Regions from separate parts of the Homo sapiens genome. Here region 2 is linked to region 1. A link means that fine-mapping ties the variant in region 1 to the expression of a gene that starts in the linked region. Tissue or cell type: cerebellar hemisphere. Region 1 holds a variant in brackets; the other region holds the start of a gene. All regions are shown on one strand. Distances are between the middles of the regions.

Evidence for each region. PIP is the estimated chance that this variant, and not a neighbour inherited with it, causes the effect.
Region 2: it holds the start of SMIM22, and the variant in region 1 is the best candidate, but not a certain one, in a credible set for the expression of SMIM22 in cerebellar hemisphere (GTEx, PIP 0.73).

What each region holds. Positions count from the first base shown.
Region 1 is chr16:4,906,622-4,910,818 of GRCh38, reverse strand. All of the region lies in intron 2 of PPL (periplakin), which reads left to right. All of the region lies in intron 1 of LOC124903637 (a long non-coding RNA gene), which reads right to left. Among named protein-coding and RNA genes, the nearest start is that of PPL, 28 kb to the left of the region's middle. The variant T/G (reference allele first, on the strand shown) is at 1,859.
Region 2 is chr16:4,793,685-4,797,881 of GRCh38, reverse strand. It overlaps SMIM22 (small integral membrane protein 22), which reads right to left and starts at 2,513. Exons shown (of 4, transcript NM_001253794.2): 1 at 2,433-2,513; 2 at 2,024-2,167; 3 at 1,834-1,934; 4 at 1,391-1,692. The coding sequence starts at 2,147. The coding sequence ends at 1,651. It overlaps ROGDI (rogdi atypical leucine zipper), which reads left to right. Exons shown (of 11, transcript NM_024589.3): 10 at 42-168; 11 at 381-914. The coding sequence ends at 422.

The DNA.
Region 1 (4,197 bases):
TGCCCCGTGCTGCCAGCCCTGTTCAGGACCAGGATCTGTTTGGAATCGGTGATTCTCACCCAGGGGTGATTGTGGCCCCGAGGGAACATGCAGAGACATTTTGGTTGTCACTGCTTGGAAGGAAGGTCCTCCTGGCGTCCAGTTGGGGAGGGGAGACAGGGATGCTGCTGAACACCCTACCGTGCACTGTAGGGCAGGGGTGCCAAGGTCAGGAAGCCCTGCTCTGTGAGAGGAACCTGGCCATTGTCGTTAATACTAGTACCTCCCGGATACTAAGTTCCTCCCTCTTCCTGGGCCCTGTGGAAAGCGTCTCCTGCCTGGAGGAGTGCCATGGGGTCAGGCTCTATGGAAACAGCCCAGCCTTGTCCTTGCTGGGTGACCTTGGACAAGTGAGCCATCCCACCTCCCCATGAACGAGATTCTCTCTAAGCAGGCAGGAGTGATGGTTCCCATTTGGCGGGGTGGTTGTAAAGATTAAATGAGATTATGCAGGTATAGGACAGGGCTATTATCGTCAATATCATTCTCACTGCTCATCCTACTGCTGCCAGCACTCAGGGTGCAGGTCTTTCTCCACCTTTTTTGGAGAAGAGAGATAAAATAGCTGGGCAAATCACTTTCCCCTATCTGTGCCTCAGTTTCCCTTTCTGTAACATGGGGATAACAACTGCCCAGTGGACTCAACGGCATGAAGCCTCTGTACCCTGAGGGACTCACGAGCCGCTGGAATGGTCACCTTCTCTTTAAACCTTCCACCAGCGCCAGCCCGGTGCGATTGGGTTGATGCCTGTTTTGTACCCTGGAGCAACTGAGGTTTAGAAGGGGCTGGGATGATGAGTCAGTGACAGAGATGGTGCCAGCATCGGCCTGCAGGTGGAGTTACCAGATTTAGCAAATAAAATATGAGATGCCCAGTTACATTTGAATTTCAGAACACAAATCATGTTTTAGTAGCAGGAAAGCCCATGTGTTATTAGGGAAAGGCTTATGCTAAAACATTATTTATTGTTTATCTGAAAATCAAGTGTAAGTGGTGATCTGTATTTCATCTGGCATCCCTATGCAGGGGCGACTAAGAAGTGGGACCAGGCCAGGTGCGTAATGGCTCACACGGCCGTAATCCCAGTACTTTGGGAGGCCGAGGTGGGTAGATCACTTGAGGTCGGGAGTTTGAGACCAGACTGGCCAATGTGGTGAAACCTCATCTCTACTAAAAATACAACAATTAGCTGGGCGTGGTGGTGCACACCTATAATCCCAGCTACTCAGGAGGCTGAGGCAGGAGAATCGCTTGAACCCGGGAGGCGGAGGTTGCAGTGAGCCAAGATCGTGCCACTGCGCTCCAGCCTGGGCAACAGAGTAAGACTGTCTCAAAAAAAAAAAAAAAAAAAAAAGGTGGGACCAGAGGAGTGGGAGGCTGAGGGTGGGGAGGTCAGGAGGGAGGTCAAGGTCTACCCGGCCAAGCTGCTGTCCCCAGGCCCAGCCATAGGTATCCAACCCCCTTGGCTGCTCCTGATGGCCCAGTTGCCCACCCTCTGAAGGCCTGTCCACAGCAGCCAAGAGACCCAAGCGGGTAGGTGGGCTGGGGTGGGCACAGTCCACGGGGGTGTAGGGGGCAGATAAGTGGAGACTCTGTTCTCTGCCACCAGCTATCCCCTGCAGGGGCCCCAGGAGTGGGCCTTGCCCTGGCCTCCTGCCTGGGGCCCCCGCCTCCATGCCCCCCTGGGCCTCCACCTCCTGCCTCCCTGGCCTCTGCCTGGCCACCCCACACCTGTTCCCTCCCATCAGCTCCCCTTGTCATTTGCAGTTACATCCTCTGCCATCTGAGGCCCCCTGTGGTGGTGGATTTCTTTCCTTC[T/G]TAAATGGAAAACATCTTTTGGGGGTGTGTCTCTTTTTTCCTCATAACAAAAATAATATGTGTTCATCACACACATTTCACGATGGATAAACAAGCATAACAAAGTGAATTAAAATCATGAGCCGGGTGCGGTGGCTCGCGCCTGTAATCTCAGCACTTTGGGAGGCCTAGGCAGGCAGATCACCTGAGCCCAGGAGTTTCAGACAAGCCTGAGCAACATGGTGAAACCTCGTCTCTACAAAAAATATGAAAAATTTGCCAGGTGTGGTGGTGTGTGTGCCTGTAATCCCAGCTCCTTGGGAGGCTGAGGTGGGAGGCTCGCTTAAGCCCGGAAGGTTGAGGCTGCAGTGAGCAGAGATGACACCACTGCACTCCAGCCTGGGCAGCAGAGGGACACCCTGCCTCAATCAATCAATCAATCAATAAAGTCAGTCATGTAGAATTCCACCACCAGAGGTATCTACTGACTATTAACATATTGGTGTATATCTGTTTGACCTTTGTGTATGTGTGTGAGAGAGAGAGAGAGAGAGAGAGAAAGAAGGAAGAGGGTTTAACCTTCTCATTTTATTTCCCTGAAGTATTGACTCAAAATAGGTAATTTTGAACCATTTTTATTTTATTTTTTTGCAGAGACAGAGGTCCTTGCTATGTTGTCCAGGCTGGTCTTGAACTCCTGGCCTCAAGCCATCCTCCTGCCTCAGCTTCCCAAAGTGCTGGGATTTACAGGCATGAGCCACTGTGTGCTTGGCCTGAACAATTTTTTCTTTCTTTCTTTCTTTTTTTTTTTTTTTTTTTGGAGACAGTCTCTCACTCTGTTGTCCAGGCTGGAGTGCAGTGGTGCTATCTCGGCTCACTGCAACCTCCACCTCCCGGGTTCAAGTGATTCTTCTGCCTCAGCCTCCCAAGTAGCTGGGACCACAGGCAGGCACCACCACGCCCAGCTAATTTATTTATTTATTTATTTTCAGTAGAGATGGGGTTTCATCACATTGGCCAGGCTGGTCTCAAACTCCTGACCTTGTGATCTGCCCACCTCGGCCTCCCAAAGTGCTGGGATTACAGGTGTGAGCCACTGCACCCGGCCTATTTTTTTAACTTCAACTGAACCCACTTGAAAAAAGAAGCTAGGCTTTGAAGACTACATGGATCACACAATCTTTTTCTTATGTTCTTTTTGCTAAAGATACTACTATTTATTTCATTTCCCAGTTCTGTTGAATTTTCCATTTTTTTTAATTGAGGGGAGATTCACATAACATAAAATTAACCATGTAATGTGTACAAGTCAGTGGCATTTCATACATTCACAATGTTACACAACCATCTCCTCGATCTAGTTCCCAAACATTTCCCTTACCCCAGAGCCAAACCCCACACCCTTAACAGTTACTCCCCACCTCCCCTTTCCCCCTGGCAGCAACTAATCTGCTTTCTCTCTGTGGATTTATTTATTCTGGATATTTCACATAAACAGAATCATACACTGCATCACACATTTATTCAAATGCTAAACATGCAGAAAACCGTACAGCGAACACCCATATCCCACCACCTGATCCTACAAGGAACGTCTGCTGAATTGGCTTTATCATGTATCTGTCCGTGTGTGTGTGTGTGTGTGTGTGTGTGTGTGTGTGTGTGTGTGTGTGAGATTAGATATATCAGTCCCTATAATTTTTTATTTTTATTTTTTATTGAGACAGGGTCTTGCTCTGTCACCCAGGCTGGAGTGCAGTGGCGCAATCACGACTCACTGAAGCCTCAACCTCCTGGGCTCAAGCAATCCTCCCACCTCAACCTCCCAAGTAGCTGGGACTACAGGCGCATGCTACTATGCCTGGCTCATTTTTGTATTTTTTTTTTTTTTTTTTTTTTTTTAGAGATAGGGTCTCACTATATTGCCCGGGCTGGTCTCCAACTCCTGAGCTCAAGCAATCCTCCCGCCTGGGCCTCGCAGAGTGCTGGGATTATAGGCGTGAGCCACTGCACCTGGCCCCTGTGACTTTAAAAAACTTTTTTATCAAGGTATAACTTATATAAACTCTAGAGAAGTGTCTACATTCGCAGACTTCACCTGGGTGAATTTTTGCATCAATAGGTACCCAGATAACCACTGTCTGTGGCAAGATGGGTAACTGTCTAGAAAGCTCCCGGGCCATCTCCCTAGTTGATATCCCTCAGGGGTCAACCCTATGCTGATCTCTCTCACCATCGATCAGTTCTGCCCGACTTTGAACTTTCGAACACTAGCCTCCCTCAGCTAGATGTTCTCTTTCTCTCTCAGCCAGTGTTTTGAGAGAACTTGCATTCCCACCGGGCACCTTCACGAATTAGGC
Region 2 (4,197 bases), 110 kb after region 1:
AGGGCCGGGACCCTCCTCAGGGACCCTCTCACTGCCCACAGCGAGTGGGGCTCTCAGCGCCTGGAGGTGAGCCACGTGCACAAAGTGGAGTGCGTGATCCCCTGGCTCAACGACGCCCTGGTCTACTTCACCGTCTCCCTGCAGCTCTGCCAGCAGCTCAAGGACAAGGTGGGCCCGGGCCGAGCGCCTTCATTAGGGGAAGGACTTCTAAGGGTCCTTGCCACACCCTCAGAGCGCCCCAACCTTGGGGTCTGGTGTACCCCACAGCACTGCGAGGCAGCAATGCCCTGTCCTGACATATTGTCCTTGGGTGACCTTGACATCTCCCCTGGGCTACCCCATCCCCCTTCAGCAACCTACAGCACCCTCTCCCCTTGCAGATCTCCGTGTTCTCCAGCTACTGGAGCTACAGACCCTTCTGATCACAGCACCCAGGAGCTTGTCTCCAGGAAGGCGGCCCCGTCCCCTACTCATACCCACCACAGAGCACCAGCCAGTGCCAACGCCAGGCTGCTATTTATCTCCCTATCCCACCCCCTACCCCACCTAACACATTTGCACTGCCGGGAATGGACACTGGAAGTGCCAGGAGGAAGGAAGGCTGGTTTGGTGGGGTAGTGGGGAGGTCAGGGAGGCGGGGCCAAGGGTGTCCCACATTCCCAACACCGCCCTCTGATCACCATGGGAATCTTTGGACTCAGGACAGGGCCAGGCGCAGGGCTCTCCCTCCTCTCCCCTTCGCTGTCCCCTCCCCCTGGAGGGCATGGTGTCGGGGGGTGGCACTGAGCTATGAGTCCCGGGGATGGTGAGGAACGCCACAGACAGAGCCACCCTAGGAGTGAGTATAGTGCTGGTGACTGTGTTTCATAGCCCCAGTCCAGGGCTGTCTAAGAAATAAAGATCATCAGACTCCACCTGGAGCCCCTGTCTGTCTGTCTGAGTGGGAACCCAGGCAGGGGGTCTCTGGTAGTCAGTGGCCATGAGCTTCAGGAGCCAGCCGTCTCCCCTATTCCCGGAGCCTGGCTTCCGCGTTCCCTGTGCCATGCCAGGGCAGGGCACAGAACCTACTGTCGAGAGGGGACCCTCGGGCTGCCAAGAAGCCCATGGGGTGGCGACAAGAGCTCTACCTGGGACTTTGGGCCACCGAGTCTTTTTTTTTTTTTTTGAGACGGAGTCTCGCTCTATCGCCCAAGCTGGAGTGCAGTGGCGCGATCTCGGCTCACTGCAGGCTCCGCCTCCCGGGTTCAAGTGATTCTCCTGCCTCAGCCTCCCGAGTAGCTGGGACTACAGGTGCCCGCCACCACGCCCGGCTAATTTTTTGTATTTTTAGTAGAGACGGGGATTCACCACGTTAACCAGGATGTTCTCGATCTCCTGACCTCGTGATCCGCCCACCTCGGCCTCCCAAAGTGCTGGGATTATAGGTGTGAGCCACCGCGCCCGGCCTGAGACCAGCTCCCCTCCCAGCTAGGTGACTGAGGATGACCTGGCACAGTCGTGCTGACTGAAGGCTTGGAGAGGCCAGGTGGCCACCTGAGTGGGGCGGCGAGTCCCGCGTCACCCACCCAGACGGGGACTGGAAGACACTGCAGACTCAGGCTCTGGGCAGACAGAAGGCTTTGTTACTGCCACCGGGCAGGAGACACAGGGTCAGGGTTCCAGGGCCAAGTTATCCACTCCCTTGGGTCTTTCCTGCACGAGAAGCACAGCGGGACCAAGCAGGTTCGCTCGTTGTTCCCTAGGGGGATGAGCACCCTTCCCGCCACTCCCCTCACCTTCCGCCTCCACCCCCAGTACAGTTCCGTGCAGGTCCCAGAGGCCGGCAGGGCTCACCTTCCAGGGGCTCACCTTCCTGGGGCTTTCCCTGCGGGGCCCGGGGGAGCTGCAGCAGCAGCAGTGGGCGACGACCAGCAGCAGCAGGAGCAGCACGGTGCCTGGGGACAGGACAGGCGTCCAGGTGTGGCCCCAACCTGGAGCCCAGGGCAGGGGGCTGGGAGGACCCAGAGGCCACAGCCACACTTACCCATGAAGGTGAGGAAAACAATGAAGGCAACAGTGTCCCATGTGGACTGGAAAAACTGGTGGCTCTTCAGTCTCCCCAGGACTTCCTGAACCGTGGCCTCCAGCTCCTCTGTGGACACAGCCATCTTGGCGTGCACCGTGCCACCTGCCCCGGTCCCCCAGAGGCTGCATCAGGATCCTGGGCTCAGCTCAGCGGGGACCACATCCAGGCTTCCCACAGCCCAGCCACTGCCCGCTCCTGGCCCAGCGCCAGCTTCCCCACCCCCTCCCACTCCACTTCTCCCTCGGCCCCAGGCCCAGCTTCTCTCCTTGCCCAGCCCTGTGGTCCTTACCCTGACAACCTTCTCCCCAGCCACTGTCATCTCCCCTCTCTCTCCCCCTGGCAGCCCAGCCCCCAGGCCCCCACCTACCTCCTAGAAGCCTCCAATTCCCCCAACCAGGCAGGTCCTGGGGAGCACAGGCTGCTTCCTGCTTCCGGCTCCACACCACCTGAGGCCTTGGCAACCAGCCCCGCCCTCCCCAGGGCCAGCAGAGGCCGCCCAGCCCAGGGGAGAGGGCCCAGGCCCAGCAGGTGCGCTCCCTGGCTCCCCACTGCTGGAGGCCCAGGGAGGAAGACGCCGGCCTGTGGCTTCTTCACTCCTGAGACTTCTTACCTTTCCTCAGTATCCCAGATATGCAGCTGGGAACACCTGTGTGCTTGGCCACTGCTGACTTCGTGAATGAAAGAGAGAGAGATGGGAGAGAAGGTGGGTGGGAGGGAGGGGGAAGGGGGAGAAAACCTACCTGCATCCCACGACCCTTGAGCAGCTAGGACAGGTGTGCCTGCATCATAGAGTTGTCCTTGGAATCCTCAACGATTGGTTCCAGCACCTCCGTGGGTACCAAAATCCACAGATGCTATAAACTCCCTGATATAAAATGAGGCAGTATTTGCATATAACCTGTGCATATACTCTATACTTTAAATCATCTCTGGATTACTTATAATACTTAATATATTTGGCCTGGCCTGGTGGCTCACACCTGTAATCCCACCACTTTGGAAGGCCAAGTTGGGCAGATCACTTACTTAGATCAGGAGCTTGAGACCGTCCTGGCCAACATGGCGAAACCCCACCTCTACTAAAAATACAAAAATTGGGCCGGGCGCAGTGGCTCACGCCTGTAATCCCAGCACTTTGGGAGGCAGAGGCGGGTCAGCTGAGGCCAGAAGTTTGAGACCAGCCTGACTGACCAACGTGGAGAAACCATGTCTCTACTAAAAATACAAAATTAGCCAGGCGTGGTGGCACATTCCTGTAATCCCAGCTACTAGGGAGGCTGAGGCAGGAGAATCACTTGAACCCGGGAGGCAGAGGTTGTGGTGAGCCGAGATCACGCCATTGCACTCCAGCCTGGGCAACAAGAGCAAAACTCCATCTCAAAAAAAAAAAAAGATAAAAATACAAAAATTGGTCGGGTGTGGTGGCTCATGCCTGTAATCCCAGCACTTTGGGAGGCCGAGGCAGGCGGATCACAAGGTCAGGAGATCAAGACCATCCTGGGTAACACGGTAAAACCCCATCTCTACTAAAAATACAAAAAATTAGCCGGCCATGGTGGCACGCGCCTATAGTCCCAACTACTCAGGAGGCTGAGGCAGGAGAATTGCTTGAACCCTGGAGGCAGAGATTGCAGTGAGCCGAGATCTCGCCACTGCACTCCAGCCTGGGTGACAGAGCAAGACTCCATCTCAAAAAATAATAATAATACAAAAATTACCCCGCTGTGGTGGCGGGCACCTGTAATCCCAGCTACTTGGGAGGCTGAGGCAGGAGAATCGCTTGAACCCAGGAGGCGGAGCCTGTAGTGAGCCAAGATCATGTCACCGCACACCCGCCTGGGTGACAGAGCAAGACTATCTCAAAAAAAATAAATTGGCTGGGTGCGGTGGCATACTCCTGTAATCCCAGCTAATCGGGAGGCCAAGGCAGGAGAATCGCTTGAACCCAGGAGGCAGAGGCTGCAGTGAGCCAAGATGGCACCACTGCACTCTAGCGTGGGTGACAGAGCAAGACTCCATCTCAAGAAAAAATTGTATACATATATTTATTTAATATAATGTATGCTAGGTAAATAATTGTTACATTGTATAGGGAACAGTAAGCAAAAAAGTCTGTACATGTCCAATAGAGA